Regions from separate parts of the Homo sapiens genome. Here all the other regions are linked to region 2. Evidence: fine-mapped expression QTL. A gene starts in region 2. Each other region holds a variant in brackets. All regions are shown on one strand. Distances are between the middles of the regions. Region 1 overlaps NCK2 (NCK adaptor protein 2). Region 2 holds the start of ECRG4 (ECRG4 augurin precursor). Region 3 has its middle 44 kb from the start of ECRG4.

Region 1 (6,352 bases), 280 kb after region 2:
AAAAAAATAGAAAACTCTAGGAGAAGGCACTTAGAGATGAGGAAGTTCTGCACTGGCCAACAGAAGTGTCTTATTTAACCTACATATAAGTAATATACAGTATAATAATTGTATTAATATAGTACAACTATAGATATGTTAAATATCAAAAATATATATTGCTTGTATTACTTGTTCAAGAGGAGATGGAGATAACAGTAGTTTCAGAATCCCTATTAATGAGAAAAGTTCATTTGGATAGAGTATGACTATAAATATACAAACCAGAGGAAAAAGGAAACCTAAGCATGGAAAAAAGACTGAAACATCATCATCTAAATGGCGTTGATAGAAATGGAGAAAAGAATTTCCCTCTCCTTTTAACCTACTTTTAAGCAATGGCTTTAACTCCATGAAAATGCATTTTATGGGTGTAGAAGTTTCAAGGGCACAAAAATCCTTTAAGCAAAAGACAGCACTAGTACCTAGGTTTTCTAACTTTTGTCTCCAATTCACATAGCTGATGAAAAAACTTATCTAGAATTGGCCTCCTTCCTCCCCAACTCTCACTTCTAATCCCCTACACTTTACGGAAGTGAAAGGAAAGTCAAATTGAGAAGCTTTTTCAAAGCTAGCACCCTCACTTTTGCATCCAAAATGGATCCAAGCAGATCCAACCTTGGAAGGAGACACATCCCAACTCTGATTTGTCCTTGGCTGGTGGCACGTGGAGCCCAGGAGGGCAGGAAGCCCAGGTCTACTCACTTCTGCCAATGGGCCAGGGATCTACAAGTCGGGGGCGGTGGGGGGCGGTATACGCATGTGTTTCTAACAGAATGAGATCATCTTATAACATGGATGTAGCCCAAAATTAAAGCAAAACAAGTTATGGCCGTAATTTTCCCATCTACCCATTCCCTCACTGTCATCAAGAAAAGATGGGCCTTGTTTCCAGCAAGAAGGAACCTGGCTAGTGGAGATGCTCCTATGGGGAAGGTGCAGTGGTCACCAGTGCACCCTGACACCCCATGGGGTGGAGTCTCCACCGCAGGGAGAGACTGAGGTAGCTTCACTGCCTGAGTCAGCTCAGGCAGCCCTAACAAAAGACCACAGGCTGGGGGCTTCAACAGCAGGTATTCATTTCTCGCAGCTCTGGAGGCTGCAAGTCCAGGATCCAAGTGCCAGCAGAGTCTGATGGGGGCCACTTTCTGGCTTGCCGATGGCTGCCTTCTCGCTATGTCCTCAGGTGGCAGAGAGAGCTCTCTGCTGTCTCTTTTCAGAAGGGCAGGAATCCCATTATGGGGGCCCTACTCTCAACCCTATTTCCTCAGAGGGCTCATCTCCAAATATAGTCACACTGGGGGTTAGAACTTCACCACCTGAATTTCTGGGGGACATAAAATTTCAGTCCATTGCACTTGCAGGTGGAAGACTCAGCCCAAGCCTACAGATATGACCATGTCAGAGCTGAGACTGGGTCCTGCCCCTTCCACGGCGCTGAGCTGAGCTTCCTTCAGTGTGAGGACAACCAACCCAGAAAAGAGAAATCCAGCTGAGTGCTCAGGGCTGAGGGTCAAAGGTGAGGGCAGTGGGAGTAACAGCAGCTGCCCAGTGCCACCACGCCTGCAGCGGGCAGAGCAAGACAGCAGAGGAGTCGCAGCAAAGGGCAGAAGAGAGGAAAGCAGGGCACATGCTCACCCCATTGAGAGCCACCAAGGCCAGGGAGCACCTGTGCGGCACCACGCCAGCTGAAGTTTCGCAGGTCCCCTGCTTCGAGTCTGGACGGTGCTGTTATCACCATGCTTTAGAAAGGAGGGTGCCTGAGCAGCAGAGGTAAGGGAGTCAGCCTAAGGCTAGGGTGGGAGCAGGGCTGGTAGAAGGCACTGGCCCAAGAGAGGCAGAGGGGAACAAACCCAGGAGGAAGCAATGCGTGGGGGAGGCAGAAGGGAGGAGAGAGTAGAAGCTGGACCTGAAGGAGGCAGAGAAATAAGAGACAGCGATGGAGACAGGAAGCCCTGCCCGGGGACCCAGGAGAGTCAGGCCAGGCCACAGCCACCACAGGGACACAGTGCTTATCAGGCCTCACCCTGAGCCAGCTATGTGGAGTTTAATTTCACTCTCATAACCGCGCGAGGCCGGCATTACCTCCTTTTCCTAAAGGTGTGGATGAGTCTGAGCTAAAGGAACCGACTCAGCATCTCATGCTTAGAGAGGAGCAGACACAAGATCCCAGCAGCGGCCAGGGCCACCTCCAAGGCTGGCAGCCAGGTCTCCAAAGGCAGAGACCTTTCCAGACAGGCCCAAGACAACACTCCCAGCCTTCCCGAACTCCCATCCTGTCCCCAGCCTGCCCACTGGCCGTTCCCAGGGCTAATGGAACAAGTCCGTGCTCAGAGCCAGGCCTGGCACATAGCACATGCTCAGCTAATGATCACTACGGTTATTACATAGATTCAAAATAATCATTTGTTATCAGAGTCATTTGTACACATAATTTTTTCATCCCT[G/C]GTGCTGGGATTGTTTGTAATTTATTGTTCAGTCCACAACGCTAATCATGCTGCCCTAGACACAACAGATGATCAATAAAAGGCTGGCTGGATGAATGGATTAATTAACTGATAGAGAGATGTGCAGTGGAAGGGACGTGAGAATAAGGCAAATAAGGCAGAAGGTAAATGAGAAAATTGACAGATGGGCAAAGAGTGGACACACACACGTTTACGAAAACACAAAAAACAGGCAAAAGGTATTAAGTCCAGGGAACCAGTCGCCCAAGTTAAATAATTTGGGCCTCCCTGGACCATCATCTAGACCAAAAGTATTGCACTGCTACTAGATATCGTATTTATTTTCTTCAGCACATCAAATGAGAACAGCTAAATAAATAGACTCAGCACTTACTAGGAGTCCTGCGCCCAACCTCCTGCTGACCCTCAGAATGACATTTTGGGTGTGATCAGGTTCTCCCAAGCTTCGGCTTATAAAGCACAAAGGCAAACTTAACCTCGGCAGGGCTGCCCCAGACTCCCTGGCTGGGCATACCTGCAAACACCTGAGCGGATGTTGAGGTGGCTCAGAGCCAATCCTGTGGCTTCCACTCTATTGGTGCTATTGGAGATTGGGCCTTTCCCTTTACTGTTCACAGCGGGAAACCTGTCAGTGGGACCAGGTTACAAGGAGGACTGGGCAGGCTGCATTAGATTTTGTATTGGCGGTCTTTTGGTCGTGTCACTTTGGACTCTATCTTTCTGAATAGCAGGAATTACACTCACATGTCTCCCTGTAGGACAACACAACAATTTTTTCCTGTGTCCACAGACATCTCAGGAAGCTTCCCACTAGCCTCCTTGGCCAGGACGGGGGAACCGTCCTCTGGTTCTTTTTACACTTGGACACACACAGCATGGCCACCTCGGCTCCCAGTGACACCGTAAAGAACCAACTGCCGCTCACGCCTGTAATCCCAACACTTTGGGAGGCCGAGATGGGCGGATCATGAGGTCAGGAGATGGAGACCATCCTGGCTAACACAGTGAAATCCTGTCTCTACTAAAAATACAAAAAATTAGCCAGGTGTGGTGGCCGGCGCCTGTAGTCCCATGTGCTCAGGAGGCTGAGGCAGGAGAATGGCGTGAACCCAGGAGGTGGAGCTTGCAGTGAGCTGAGATCGCGCCACTGCACTCCAGCCTGGGCGACAGAGCGAGACTCCGTCTCAAAACAAACAAAAACAAAAACAAAACAAAAACGAAAAAACACACAAAAAAACACATAAAAAACAACTACCTGCTTCAGAAAGCATTTCAAACTGGGAGGCTGCCTAAGTGCATGCACGTGTTCCTAACTTTACTCGTGTATCCTATTCTGTCAGTATCTGAGGACACACTCTTTGTGCATATTCTAAGAATGTTGAAATGGGAAGTGTGGGAAACACGGGCCTGGAACAGTGGCTGCTGAGGAACGGATGGACCTCAACAGACACACTGCTCCTCCAGGGGCAAGTTTGATGGTGTTATAGTTTTCACTAGACTAAATGAGAATCTTTTATGGCAAGCATTTGTAACTGCCTGCCTAACCACAGACATGCTCAATTTAAATGTGATTATTATAGAAATGATAAAAATGCATTTATGCTCACCTACATTGTAAAGACCTGAATACATCTCTACATTGTACCCTCCACAAGCGAGGCTCCACATAGTGGAAACACAAATGTATCTTGAATTTAACATGCCCCTTCACCTCAATATAACCAGCATCAATACTTACTAGCCTGAAAGGCTGTTTTAAACAGCTTGACATGTAAGCAAATTAAACTCTCCCCTCCCGATTCACCCCAAGCCCATATGACCACCACAAGGAGTCCGATCAGCAGGTGGGAAAACTGCTCCCCAGAAATGCCACTGGGGTGAGAAAAGGGATGGCAACTTCCTATTAGAAATAACAGCCGGGCGTGGTGTCTCATGCCTGTAGTCCCAGCATTTTGGGAGGCTGAGGCGGGCGGATTACTTGAGCCCAAGAGGTAGAGGCTGCAGTGAACAGAGATGACGCCACTGCACGCCAGCCTGGGTGACAGAGGGAGAGCCTCTCTCAAAAAAGAAAAGCTCCCAGTGACGCTTTCCTGAATGAAAATGAATTTCATCACTGCCAATGCCACGCATGGTGTTGAGGCCAACCAGGTGCCACAGAAGGGACCTGCCGTCCAGCTGAAGCAGGTCCTGCTGCTTACTCAGTGACCTGCAAAGGCAATGGCACTCTGTCTTCTGCAGAGAAAGGGTGTTTCATTTTCTCGTGCAAATTCCAAATATATCCACATTTCAGATTGCTACAAGGCAGTACTATAAAGGGAGAAGCGAAACAACTCCCACTTTCTGGGAAGAAATGCCCTTGTTTCCAGCTGCAAAACCCTCTCTGTGGGGAAGCACACTGAAGTCGCTCAGGAACAGGCCACCCCTCTTGGAAAGAGTGGAGGTCATCATTTTTCACCTATTAGCGAAAAAAAAACATAATCTGAATACATTTATGTAGGGCTATTACCCAGAATATTTACAGGGTTTCTTCGTGCTAAGGTATTTCATGATGCTCAGAGGAACAAGGTGGAAAAAACACACCATTATTCTCCGCGAACGGCTGCCTTCCTAGTAACTGCACCCACGGTGGCAAATACTGCACATTAACCTGTGCCTTGGTGGTGTACGAAGCTTCCCACAAGCAGGTGAAGATGAAGAGCTAAGTCTGGCTCAGACAGGCAACGCTGCATCGAGCTGTTTTTACTCTAAATAAAAACCATGTTCCACGCGGGCCTTCACGGTGCTACCCCAGAACACGGGCACAATTTAATGCCTCACTCCGAGGAAGGAAGCTCAGGGAAGTCTCCTCTAGTGACTCTTAGAGGCTCCCCAAAGGAGGAGGGCGATGGGGGCCCACCCAAGCTCTAGCGAGGCTACAAACAGCACGCAGAACATTCCACTGCCATTACTTTCCATCTTCAAAAGATTACATATCATCTTAAAGAAAATTCAAGGTTAAATTGGCTTCCTCAGCTGCTGCGGCAGAAAGCAAAGCAGTGCTGCAGAGAAAGTTAAACCACCTCCCAGGGCTCTGGCCTTCTGCAACTCTTATTCTAAGGCAGCTTCCCCATCTATCTTGTTCCACGGTTATATCCCAGGTACCCAAAAAGGCTCTGGCCTTAAGGCTTACCTGTTGCAAATGATAGTCGACCAACTCAGCTGCAAATGGGGCTTGTTATGACACCGGAAATAAAGGTGAGGCTGCCACCCTCTTCGCCAAGCCGGTGAGCACAAGTGTCTGGAGTAACTGCCCCCTACGCCTCTCCAGTTGGGAGCGTTGGGGACAGTAAGTGAGTACTAGTCACTGGAAGCCAGCTCTGAGAGGCAGGTGCTGTGGCTGCCAGAGCTGAGCACAAGCCTAACAGCCTTTGCAACCTCCTCTTCTCCCCGACATCCACTTCGCCTCTACAGGCAGCTGCAGCCCATTTTGCCAAATGATTTCAACGGGCCGGATCCCCCACTCTCAGAAACGATCAGGTTCTATCATTTGACGTTGCATGAGGAGAGCTAAATTAGCCATGAAAACAAAACTGCTCTAACAAAATAAAAAGTACTAAAACCACATACTACCTATGCATGGAGTTCAAGAGTGAGAGGATGAAAACATAAGACACTTCACATAGCCAGCATTCCTCAAGTGAGATTTTGTGTAGAATTTAAAGTAACTTTAATACTTAAGAAAAGAGCGTTCATTATATAGACTGTTTCTTCTCAAGTCCTCAAATGGCCATCAACCCAACTCTGACACCTGCTGTGGAGAGAGTGGAACTAGTTTTAGGGAGATTTTTGGTGGCAGAGAGAGAAGG
Region 2 (6,352 bases):
TTGTTTGAGGAAAAGGATAAGGAACAATAGAATAGCTGTGATTTTTTTCTGTATTAAGGACTTTTCACCCAATATCATCAGTTGTTCATTCAAGGCTGCAATAATAAGCACTCCTTAATTTATCCAATCCAGTTGCCTAGCATTAGCTCTCCCAGCAAATTCAGAGCTGCAAAATGCTCCTTTGAAGGTGCTTAATATTAATAAATTGATCAAGAAGGGGTCACGGTCATTTTCTTTATTAAATGTTTGTGAGTGAGGAAGGGCGTGGTGGTTCAAGCCTATAATCCTAGCACTTTGGGAAGCCGAGGCAGAAGCATCACTTGAGCCCAGGAGTTCGAGACCAGCCTGGGCTACATAGTGAGACTCATCTCTACTAAAAATTAAAAGAAAAAAAAAAAATTGCCAGGCGTGGAGTCAACACACCTGTAGTCCCAGCTACTCGGGAGGCTGAGGTGGGAGGATTGCTTGAGTCCGGGAGATCAAGGCTGCAGTGAGCTATGATCACACCACTGCACTCCTGCCTAGGCAACAAAGTGAGACCCTGTCTCAAAAAAAAAAAAAAAGTTTGGAGGTGGCATAAAGAGTCACCTTTGGGATTACATAAAGATTTTCACTGTAGGCTGGGCATGGTGGTTCATGTTTGTAATCCCAGCACTTTGGGAGGCCAAGATTGGTGGATCACCTGAGGTCGGCAGTTTGAGACCAGCCTGACCAACATGGAGAAACCCCATCTCTACTAAAAATACAAAACAAAAACAAAAACCTTAGCTGGGCGTGGTGACACATGCCTGTAATTCCAGCTACTCGGGAGGCTGAGGTAGGAGAATCGCTTGAACCTGGGAGGCGGAGGTTGCAGTGAGCCAAGGTCACGCCATTACACTCCAGCCTGGGCAACAAGAGCAAAACTCCATCTCAAAAAAAAAAAAAATATTTTCACTGTATAAGAACTTTCACATCCCAGCTCGGTGATGATATTTTAACTGAGTTATTGGTATAAACTAAATAAAATACAAGTCCTGAAAATAAATGGCTTGTAGCCAGTGCTCACTTGACTTATTCAGATGTGCTTTTTTCTTCTTCTTCTTTTATTTATTTCTTTTTTTATTTTGCGACGGAGTTTCACTCTTGTTACCCAGGCTGGAGTGCAATGGCACGATCTCAGCTCGCCGCAATCTCCTCCTCCCAGATTCAAGCAATTCTCCTGCCTCAGCCTCCCGAGTAGCTGGGATTACAGGAACGTGCCATCACGTCTGGCATTTTTAGTAGAGACGGGGTTTCTCCATGTTGGTCAGGCTGGTCTCGAACCCCCGACCTCAGGTGATCTGCCCCCCCCCCCCCCCCGGCCTCCCAAAGTGCTGGGATTACAGGTATGAACCACCAAGGCCGGCCCAGATGTGCTTCTTAAAGTGGCAAGAACAAAGAGTGGGAGGCAGGTAAACCATACAACGGGAAATGACTGATTAGCTTCGCCTGTGATTCTAAGGTGGAACAATAATCCTCCCCACCTGAACAGACCTCACCACGCCTCCTGCTGTTTTAGCAACCCCGGGGCTCCATCCCAGGGCTCCTACTGAATGTCCCCTGCCTCTTCTCACCTCGAGTTCAGTTTCCATACCTGTTTCGAATGAGCAAAATACAGAAACTGAGCAACCGAGTGAGCCTCCCTTTTACATTAGGCAGTGCCCAGCTGCTTTGCAGTGGGACAGCGCCAGTCTCAGGCTCTTGGGCAAGTCACTTCATACACCAGTAACTCTGAGGTAACAATCCCTGCCTCCCCTAGTTGTAAGCTTCAAAGGCAGTCATGTGTCCTTGAGGCCACTTGTGAACCATAAATGTTCCTCCTACCCAGTGAAGGTGGTAACTCAGGACAAACCACGGCTTCAGATTATGGTTCCTAAAGTGGGGCCTGTGGAGCCCAGCGATCAGATATCGGAGCACCCATCATTCTGGGTGTGCGTGTGAATGCACGTTTTACAGAGAGCGAGCAGAGAATTTCAGAGTTTTCAACCGATTCGCTGGGAGCTCCACGAAGCAGGAAAGATTAAGCATTACTCCTTTAAGAGCCTTTCCCCTCTCTGGGGTGTGAGGCCTGTGCCCAGCTTTGCAAATTGCAACTTGACCCAGCTGGGAAGCGCAAGTCAACTTGGTTGCTAAGCGACTGCCTGGAAGGGAATGGCGGTGATGGTGCCATTTGCCTCCTCTGGGTTACCAGCTGCGTAAAGCCCCCACAACCCTTTTGCCCCTTACGTTAAGCCACGAAACACTACTTGCCCACCCTTCGGACGCCTGGCCCTCCTTGCCCAAGGTTGCCCGGGAGATCTGAGACCCTCCCCTTGACCCCGGTACTCTCTCCACCCTCACAAGGGCACCACTTCGCACTTGTGCGAGTGCAAAACCCCAGACCCGGTCCTCTACCACCCCTTGGCCCTGCCTAGGCTAAGGATGGGTCCCTACGCCGCCACCCCATCACCGATCGCTCTCCCCGGGCACCATGGAAGCGCCACATGGGGCCAACCCCTGGTGCCGCTATCAATCAGCCTGGCATCGCCCCGCTCACCTGGGCCCCAGCACAGGAGCAGGAGCAGCGCCAGCCCGGTCAGGGCCAGGACAGCAGGCCGCGCGGGGGAGGCAGCCATGGCGGCGGGGCGCGAGCAGGAGGGCGAGGGGCGCACTTCGAGGTGCTGCGAGGGAGAACCGGGCGCGGGAGAGGGGTGCGAGCGGGCAGGCGCGGCCGCGGGTTATCCCTGCGTCGCTGCCGGGGCGGGACCCAGCGGGTGGGCGCCGCGCCAGAGGGCTGAGGGCCAAGCGGCTGCGCCCAGCGCACGGGCGAGTACCACCGAGGTCCTCTCTCCCGCCCCGGCCCCAAGGGGAACGCAGCCCCTGGGCTCCAAGGCCAAGGATGCTTGGCCACGGAGAACCGCCGGCGGCGGGGGCCGCGTGGCCAGCGCTGCCCGCAGCGAAAGCGGTTAGGACAAGCTGGGTTCCGGAGACCCAAGGAAGGGCAGAAGGCATCGGGAGAAGGGACGAGGCCCCCTGGCCACTCAGAGGGAGGACTTGCCGGATCCCAGCGCTGGGGTGTCTCCTTGGCTCCCCCACTTCCTCCGCCCGCCCCAGCCGCGCCACTGTTCCCCTTACTCCTCACCCCTTTCTTCCCTATCTCCCTCCCTCCCTGCTTGGGGGCCTTGCTTCTGCCTGGTTTGTAAAGTGGGCTTTGGAATTTCCTTAGTTCAGAGCTGCTCTTAAGGATGCCTTAGGCGGGGCTGTTTTTGAGATAGTTTGAAAGATTCCACAGTCTGGGTTCAGAGCTGCAGTCCGGGAAATCGTCTCACCCAAACTTCTCCAATAGAAAAGCCTTTGAGAAACCAGGAACCTGGTGCCCTGCAGCTGTGAGCAAAACCACTGCTTCCCTTTGCCCGCTCTGTAATCTGGGCACACTTCAGCGAGCGATGTTAAGGTGAGACCCAAGGGAAACGCAGAACTGCATCCCAGTAACTGGCCTGTTCAACTGTAGAGGACACGTGAAAGGAGGCGTAGTGAACAAAAACTAGAACAACTTTATCCCAACGGACTCTGAGCGGGTCACCTAATTATTCTCTCCAGGCCTGGGCTACAAAAGGATGGAGATGTGAGATTACCTTTCCTGTCTTCCCATCTCAGATCTGCCCTGAACTGAGCTGATTACCTCTTTCCTTCACCAAGGTTCTCACTTATTTTCCCCTCCCTGAGACGGAGTTTCACTCTTGTTGCCCAGGCTGGAGTGCAGTGATGGGATCTCAGTCACTGCAACCTCCAACTCCGGGGTTCAAGCGATTCTCCTGCCTCAGCCTCCTGAGTAGCTGGGATTACAAGGCATGTGCCACGAGGCCCAGCTAATTTTGTATTTTTAGTAGAGAAGGGATTTTACCATGTTGGCCAGGCTGGTCTTGAACTCCTGAACTCAAATGATTCACCCGCATCGGCCTCCCAAAGTGTTAGGATTACAGGTGTGAGCCACCACACCGGCCAGTATTTTTATACCCTCCAGTGGTAAGCACTTACTGTCTCTCCATATAATTAGCTCTCCATGCAATGCAGTTGAATTTCTCCAGCAGGAAGGAGAAAGAAGTCTTCTAACATTGAGCTAGTAAAGACAGATGGTGGCCAACCAAAGAAAAAAGTGCAAAGTGGGTCTGAGTTAGATCATGATACTGCCCAGGGTGTCAGAGAGAATCAGAAGGATAATGTTACACATCTAGCTATCTTGGGGAAGTGCTTCTAAACCCTTGAGGAAACTGTAGAATAGGGGATAGGAGTTTTAAAAGTAACCAGGCATATATTTACTTTTGCCTGAGGACAAGAAATTTATCATTAGAAAGAAAAATCAAAGCACATAAAAAGCCAATATTCTGTTTGGATTGGTTTAGAACATACATTAAACATAATGGCTGTAATCTTATTTATCCTGTGGAGATCATCCCCCTTACCCCAAATTGCTACCAATATCTACTTCTAATATGACATTCAAATTCTCTTCACTTAAGGGGGATCATGGTGGCTCACGCCTGTAATCCCAGCACTTTGGGAGGCTGAGGAGGGCAGATCACTTGAGGTCAGGAGTTTGAGACCAGCCTGACCAACATGGTGAAACTCCCTCTCTACAAAAATGCAAAAATTAGCCAGGCGTGGTGGTGCGTGCCTGTAGTTCCAGCTACTTGGGAGGCTGAGGCAGGAGAATCACTTGAATCCAGGAGGCGGAGGTTGCAGTGAGCCGAGATTGCGCCACTGCACTCCAGCCTGGGTGACAAAGCGAGACACTATCTAAAAAAAAATAAATTATCTTCACTTAATCGGGATATGACCAGAGAGTGTTCTGTAGCAGGGAGCGTCTCACTCTGCCTTCAGAGGGGCCGCTAAACTCATGTGTTCAGCCTGGAGACACTATGTCAGTTCTTATGCTGATATCTAAGTTCCTTTTCATCTGTCTATTTGTTCAACGGTATTTACTTACTGTCTTAGTCCATTTGGGCTGCTAAACAAAATCCCATAAGCTGGGTAGCTTATAAGCAACAGAAATGGATTTTGCACAGTTATGGAGGCTGGAAATTCAAGACTAAGGCCCCAGCAGATTTGGTGTCTGGTCAGGCCCTGCTTCCTGCTTCCTAGATGGCACCTTCTTGCTGTGTCCTCATACGGTAGAAGGGGTGAGGGAGCTCTCTGGGGCTCTTTTATGAGGTCACAAATCCCACTCATGAGGGATCCATCCTCAGTACCTGATCATCTCCCAAAGGCCCCACCTCCTAACACCTCACTTCAGGAATTAGGATTTAATGTATGAATTTAGGGGAGACACAAAAATTCAGTCTGTAGCACTTATAAAATGCTAGCTACATGTGAGACACTATTAAAGGTCCTTTTCTTACTAGTCGCTTAAATTTTTCACCCCTTTAATGTACAAGACCCTCCTTTCTCCCGCTGCTAAGTCTGGTCTGATTTTTCATTCCAGTGTTTCTCAAACTTAGTCTGAAAATCCCAAGGAGCTTGTTAGTGCAGATTTCTGAGTCAAATCCCCTGGAATGACGTAGGTCTTGGGTGGGGCCCAGCTGTCTCCATTTTGTTTTTATTGGCTCCTAGAGGATGCTGTAGTCCTCAGACTGCACTTTGAGTAACTCAGCTCATTCAGCTCTCCACCAAAACGCACCTGCTTCCTAAAGTCTCTACCTGGCCTCACTCAGTTTAATAATGCAGTTTCTCTCCCTTGATATACCATACCAAATGAACCCCAGGACCTTCGTTTCTGCCATGTGACAGTAGCTAAGGACGTGGGCTTTGGGTTCCAGTTCCTTCTGCATTATGCACAAACTGTGTAATTAGATCACCTGTCCTCTCTAGGCCAGAGGTAATATGGGGGCAATATTATCTATCACACTGGGGTAAGAGATCACATGCACAGAGCCTGGTGTACAGTAAGCACTCAACAAATGTTAGAAATTATTTTCAGACCAAACTCCCTCTGGCCTCTGAGCTCCCCACCCAGTGCTCTTACACCTCTCTGATCCTCCCTTCCTTTGGCCAGGAGCTCTCATTGTAGACGATTCCAATCCACTCCACATACCATTGTCACACATTGTCAGACTGACCTTCTCAAACACAGTCCAGACATGGTGTTCCCTTCCTCCACGTGACTCAGGGGCCTCAGTGGTCCTCCCTCTGTGGCTTCCAATTCACAGATACCTGGCAATAGCAGATAGAGGACTGTAGGAAGTGCCATCACTCTGCGAGCGTGCCGTGAGCTGAATGCACACAGGGGAAAGGGGGCAGGGTCTAAGACGGAGCTGCCTTTGATTATGAGAGGCCTCAGAGAGAACAACCACAG
Region 3 (6,352 bases), 43 kb after region 2:
AGAGACAGAGAGGGAGAGAGACAGAGAACATAATTGGAAAAGTAAGAAAGATCTCTCCCATCACACTGTCTGTACTAACATCCCAAACTCAGCCCCCATCCCAGAAAAAGACAGAGAATAAGGAAAGGGAAGGATACATCTAGAAAGGGAAGGACGCATCTAGAAAGGGAAGGATACATCTAGAAATAGAGTGTCAGGTCAGAAGAGCTTAGTGAAGGACCCTTATGAGCTAAATTAGGGTTCCATGAGCCAACCTTCACCATAGGTCCCTCTTGACTCCACACCCTCAGCCAAGCCACCTGTTAGATTCTCCTGGGGCCCCTGATTTCACAGGCCCCAAGGCCCTGCCTGAGGGACAGAACAGCCCAGGGTGGGGAATGAGGCAATCGAAACCAGGGAACTCCTTGAGCTGCTAGTGTAGGCGGAGGGCAGGAGGGAGAACACATCTCCTCACACACTTCTTACGTCTACCTTTTACCTTGTAGAAAAATGTCAAAAGTCTTATTTATTGTAGCCAGGAATGCAAGGCAGGTTTCAAATTTTGGAAAGGAAAGAGCAACCTCATGTTCATTTAAAATCATAATTTAAGTCATAATTCTCCCCCCTCCCCGCTTCTACTCCCCAACTTTGGGCTAGCTGAAGCTGGTTTTAGGGCATTCCGTTCCAAGTTTGCATTCACAGATTTGCAACTTGAGTGAGCTGAGCTGGGTAAAAGAATAGCCCAGCTTCGGATGAGGACACCTGTGGGTGCTGCGTTGTCCTCATTCCTCAAGGGGAAGAGAGTGCAACAAGGATGCTTGCAGCTGCTCAGATGCTGGCTCAGGCACAAAGCATCTTCCAGCCCTGACAATGGTGCCATTTTTCTTCCAAGACCAATTGCTAAGTCCTGCAGGATTTCAGGCTTCATCAGAGATATTAAGAGTGAGCAAAAACCTTCCTGACACCAGTTCCCAGGTGTAGGGAAAACACTCAAACTTCCTCTGGGAGGTTTCCTGGCTCCTCTGATGTGGTTGCAAGAAACAAACCAATAGTAGTTAGCCAATGTGATAGCAGAAATCCACGGCAGGCAGAATAATGGCCCCAAAGATGTCCACATCCTAATCTCTAGAACCTGTGAATATATTAGGTTACATGCCAAAGGGCTATCAAAGTTGCAGATGGAATTAAGACAGCTAATCAGCTGACTGTCTTGGGCAGGTGGGCCCAATGTGGTTGCAAGGGTCTTTATAAGTGGAAAAGGGAGGCAGAAGAGAGGGAGCCAGCGAAATGCAGCATGAAGAGGACTCAGCCTGACTTTGCTGGCTCTGAAGGTGGAGGAAGGGGCCACAGCCAAGGAATGCAGGTGGCCTCTAGAAGCTGGAAAAGGCGAGGAAACGGATCATCACCTGGAAGGAAGATAGCACTGCCAACACCGTGATTCTAGCCTAGCCGTGATGGCAGGAAGATTAAATCATAAACCAGTGAAATTTGGGGGGTGAGATAGGCTCAGAGTGTAAGAGGTAAAGGACAGGAATGACTATCACTTTTTATGTAGTTTTGACTTTGTTTTTTCTTTTGAGACAAGTTCTTGCTCTGTCTCCCAGGCTGGAGTGCAGTGGTACACTCACAGCTCACTGCAGCCTCAGTCTCCTGGGCTCAAGCAATCCATTCGTCACACCTCAGCCTCCTGAGTAGCTGGGACTACAGGTATGCACCACCATGCCAGGCTAATTTTTGTATTTTTTGTAGAGATGGGGTTGTGCCATGTTGCCAGGGCTGGTCTCAAACCCCTGAGCTCAAGCAATCTTCCTGCCATGGCCTCCTGAAATGCTGAGATTACAGGCGTGAGCCACTGTGCCTGGCCAGTTTTGACTTTTGAATTATGTGTTTTACATATTCAAAAATAAAATTAAATCAAAGAGTTTTTTAGAAGCACTCTAAACTTGGATAAACACAACACAATGATATACTATCTACCAAACTGGTTACATAAGTACATAGAAAAAAAGAATTAAGTAACTTAAAAGCTGAGCTCCAAGCATACACATTTAGTTGGACTTATTCTAAGGGTAAAAAGACCTGCAAAGAAATCTTGATCTTAGGAGTTTTGTTGTCAGTACTGGTATCGATACTGTGATTCTGGAATATTTTGAGTTATGTCCTAGAATAAAGCAATGAGTAAGGAAGAAGAGAGATACAAATATGGTGTGGAGGATATTGAGGAAGAACTCGGCAATGTATTTGTGTTGAATTGTCTTTGAATTGAAGATATCAGTATAAATCCATGATTCCAAAGATACATTCCTTAGTTCTCTCCACTGAAAGGGAGACACACTGAGGCCCTCATAGCAATGAGCATATGTAGGCCCCAGATCTTGGTTTCTTTCACCCGGATCTAAGTATCACTCTCTATCAAAAGCAACCAGGATTCCTTGGTAAATAGCTAATTTGGGTGTTGAGCAGGAAAAATATAAGATGAGCCTGGAAGTACTCAAAGACCATAGTGACCGCTAAAATGTGGCCCAGCTAGGAACCAAACCTAGGTCTTCAAATGTCAAACCCAGCAATTATTTCTACTTCACTGCCCTGTATTTCCCACCATGAAATCTGCTCCCTACTTTACACAATCTATATTTTGGTATCACTTTTAAATATTAGAATTTTGTTACAGCCAT[C/T]GAAGTGGTATCTTTCTCATTTTATTTTCTCTCCTTTAATAGAAATAAAGCTTTTGAAAAGCCAATCACCAGCCTACCCGAGCATCCAGGATTAGGGTCTGTACTTCTTTTATGTTCTTGAGCAGCGTTCCTCATCCTTTTTGGCACCAGAGACCAGTTTCATGGAAGATAATTTTTCCACGGACAGGGATTAGGGGGAGTATAGGGGTGGGGAAGGGTGGTTTTGGGATGAAACTGTTCCACTTCAGATCATCAGGTACAGATTCTCATAAGGAGCATGCAACCTAAATCCCTCATATGTACAGTTCACAATAGGGTTCATGCTCCTTCGAGAACTAATGCCAGGCTGATCTGACAGGAGGCATGGCTCAGGCAGTAATGCTCACTCACTCACCTGCCACTCACCTCTTGCTGTGCAGCCCGGTTCCTAACAGGCCACAGATTGGTACCAGTCTGTAGCCTGGGGGTTGGGGACCCCTGTTCTTGAGCTCCAAAGCATGCCTGCTAAAACTCTGCTCTGAACATCCAGACCCAGCCTAGGGTAAAGAGACAACTCAGAGAGATGGATCCTTCTGCAGCGTGGCCTCCTGGTTGAGGGTGGTTATTTTTTCTCTGCATTAGTTACCCTCGTTCTTTATCTGGAGAAGGAGCAAATGGAAAAAAGGGGAAAGAGAATGAGACTTTTCTTTTAATAAGTTGAATATTGACCCTGGCCAACAAAGATTTTGGCAGCACAGATTGAAATGCATTCCTGAAACAGACTGGAAGATCTCCTTAATATGCATCAACTGCACCAAATTCAAAAGCTATTACCTCTTACGTTTTCCTTCCATCCACAGGAGGCCCCGCCCTTTGTAAAACAAACAGTTGTCAGGGGGCCGATTCCCCAGTATGGTCACTGTGCAGTGCTTCAACATTTGTTATCACCGTACCATTAATTTCCACACACATCTGCTTGAGGATTTCTTCCTGCCCCGGATGGCATGTTCATCTCCATCTAATTCACATTTTATTGCCCTTGTCTTGCCCCTAGCAAGCGTTATCAAGTGCTGTAAGCATTCCAGAGCTGTGCCAGGTGGCTGGGAGGCCCTCAGCCCCATTCCCTGTGGTTTGAGGCTGCGCTTACAGCTTTAATTTCCAGTCAGCTGTAATTCAGGACCACAAATGGCCAAATTGAAAGGGCTCGCTCACTTCCAAAAAGCATCTCACCAGTAGCTCCTAATTACAGAGCCAAGTGCAAACGACACTGCCTTGCTTGGAAGAGAAGTGAGGGCTCTTTCTCTCTGCTTATTTTGGACACCCTGGGTCACTGAACAACTAAATCTACACTGGAGGATGGCTGCTCCCATTTCCCAGGGGGCCTGGCAGAGGTCCCAAAAGGCAATTTCCCAGGCATGCCTAGTGTGGAGGCCCTGAGAAACGTCGGCTGAAATCAAGCCCTGCCTGGGCTGCTGCAATATTTTCCAGCCAGTGCATCTCAAATGTGAGAAGTGCACAGATCATCTTAAAGGGAAAAAAACTACACAAATTAAGAATACAACTCAAAGGACCCTCTTTAAACAGTGCTGCAAAAAAACAAAAAACAAAAAAACAAAAAACCTAAAATCTCATTCCATGCAAATGCCCTTTAATTGCATTAGCACTGCAAGAGTTCTGTCTTTATAACTGGTATAATTTAGAATGTGCTTGCAGCCCTGGTGCAGTTTGGGAATGAACCTATGCCTTATTTTCAGAATTGTTCTGCAAGGAGTTATCAAAGGATTCACACTCATACCTTCTCATTGCACCAGGCAGACCCGCCTCCTCTCGATTCTAACAATATGTCACCTAAAACCTGCTGCCCAGCATTTCTTTTGACCCTCACAACCATCCCTGAGCCTGGCAGGACTCCTCTAGAGTTTTCAGGAGAGGCGACAGAAGTCACTGGCCCAGGGTCCCAGGAGTAATAGCCACAAGGTTGGAGTTTACGCATTGCTGTTTCGGCAGGGCAAAAAGAATCCAACAGCAGTAATATCTTATGGTTCTGCATAATGGAAGCTGGCTCAGAGCCTGGGATTTCTGACTCCCCACGGAATGTTTTGCTGTTAAGCTGAGATACTTCCAAAACACAGTTAGGTTTGTTAAGTAACACATGGGACATCTTTGTAATGAATTACTAGGTACCCATTAACATTGGGTTTTAAAAGGATGTGGGAAATAAGTTTCTTTATATTTTTAGAAAAAAACAAAACTAGGATTATAGAATTTTTACTTCTTTAATTTTTTTATTCACATACCTTCTATCACATGGAAGTAGAAGGTAGATTGAGAGAAATCTAGCTTCACCCTTGCTCTCTCCACCTTCTCCTTCCTTTTAAAGATAAGGATGCTATTCATTATATAATCAATCCTTCTGTTTTATTTATATATATATATATATTCATATCCCCTCTTTCTTAGACAAATGGCAGCGTATTATATTTACTTTTCTATATTTTCTTTTTTCTTTTTTTGAGATAGAGTCTCATTCATTCTTTTTTGCCCAGGATAGAGGGGTGTAGTGGTGCAATCTCAGCTCACTGTACCTTCTGCCCCCAGGCTTAAGCTATTTTCCTGCCTCAGCCTCTGGAGTAGCTGGAATTACAGGCATGTGTCACTACGCTTGTCTAATTTTTGTATTTTTAGTAGAGACAGGGTTTTGCCATGTTGGCCAGGCTGGTCTTGAATGCCTGACCTCAAGGGATCCACCTGCCTCGGCCTCCCAAAATGCTGGGATTACAGGCATGAGCCACTGCACCCGGCCTGTATTTACTTTTCTCTACTTGCTTCTTTCAATTGACAGTATATCCTGGAGAACCCAGCATAGTAGGATCTAGAGATCTTCCTACTTTGTTTTGAAAGCTGCACAGAACTCCACCAGTCTCCGATTGGTGGACATTTGGGGCCATCACAAATAATGTTGCTGTGAATACTCCTTGGCATATGTCTTTTGGGGTGTCTTGCCAATTTTTTTTTTTTTTTTTTTTTTGAGACAGAGTCTTGCTTTGTCACCCGGGCTGGAGTGCAGTGGCATGATCTCGGCTCACTGCAAGCTCCGCCTCCCGGATTCACGCCATTCTTCTGCCTCAGCCTCCTGAGTAGCTGGGACTACAGGCGCCCGCCACCATGCCCAGCTAATTTTTTGTATTTTTAGTAGAGACAGGGTTTCACCATGTTAGCCAGGATGGCCTCGATCTCCTGACCTCATGATCCGTCCACCTCAGTCTCCCAAAGTGCTGGGATTACAGGCGTGAGCCACTGTGTCCAGCGTCTTGTCAATATTTAAATAGGTTCCTGGAAAGAACATTGCAAAAACAAAAGGGGAATGCATAGAGAATTTTATTAGCCACTGTCAAAACCTCATTTCACTTTCACAAACTCCTGTTTCTCCAAGCCCACCCTCACTGTGTACTACTCAACTTTGTGATTTGATTAATCTGATAGTAAGACTTGGTAACTCAGGATAGTTTTTATTTGCATTTCTCCTCTCTGGCCCCCCACTTTTCTATAGGATTGTTGGTCTTCTCTATTTTCAGAAGTTTTTTCTTTATTAGAGCTATTGATCCTTTCAGGTGTGAGTTGCTGATATTTACTGCCAGTTTGCCATTTGTCTTTTTTCTTTGCTTGAGGTGTTTCTTGTCATACAGATTTTCTCTTTTAAAAATTGTATATTATCAAAT

Evidence for each region. PIP is the estimated chance that this variant, and not a neighbour inherited with it, causes the effect. A credible set is the group of variants that fine-mapping cannot tell apart.
Region 1: its variant is the best candidate, but not a certain one, in a credible set for the expression of ECRG4 in whole blood (INTERVAL, PIP 0.65).
Region 3: its variant is the best candidate, but not a certain one, in a credible set for the expression of ECRG4 in transverse colon (GTEx, PIP 0.63).

What each region holds. Positions count from the first base shown.
Region 1 is chr2:105,782,338-105,788,689 of GRCh38, reverse strand. All of the region lies in intron 1 of NCK2 (NCK adaptor protein 2), which reads right to left. Among named protein-coding and RNA genes, the nearest start is that of NCK2, 41 kb to the right of the region's middle. RefSeq lists enhancers at 1,801-1,850, 1,433-2,004, 5,290-5,790. The variant G/C (reference allele first, on the strand shown) is at 2,487.
Region 2 is chr2:106,062,049-106,068,400 of GRCh38, reverse strand. It overlaps ECRG4 (ECRG4 augurin precursor), which reads right to left and starts at 2,713. Exons shown (of 4, transcript NM_032411.3): 1 at 2,558-2,713. The coding sequence starts at 2,636.
Region 3 is chr2:106,018,567-106,024,918 of GRCh38, reverse strand. No RefSeq gene overlaps it. Among named protein-coding and RNA genes, the nearest start is that of ECRG4, 44 kb to the left of the region's middle. The variant C/T (reference allele first, on the strand shown) is at 2,655.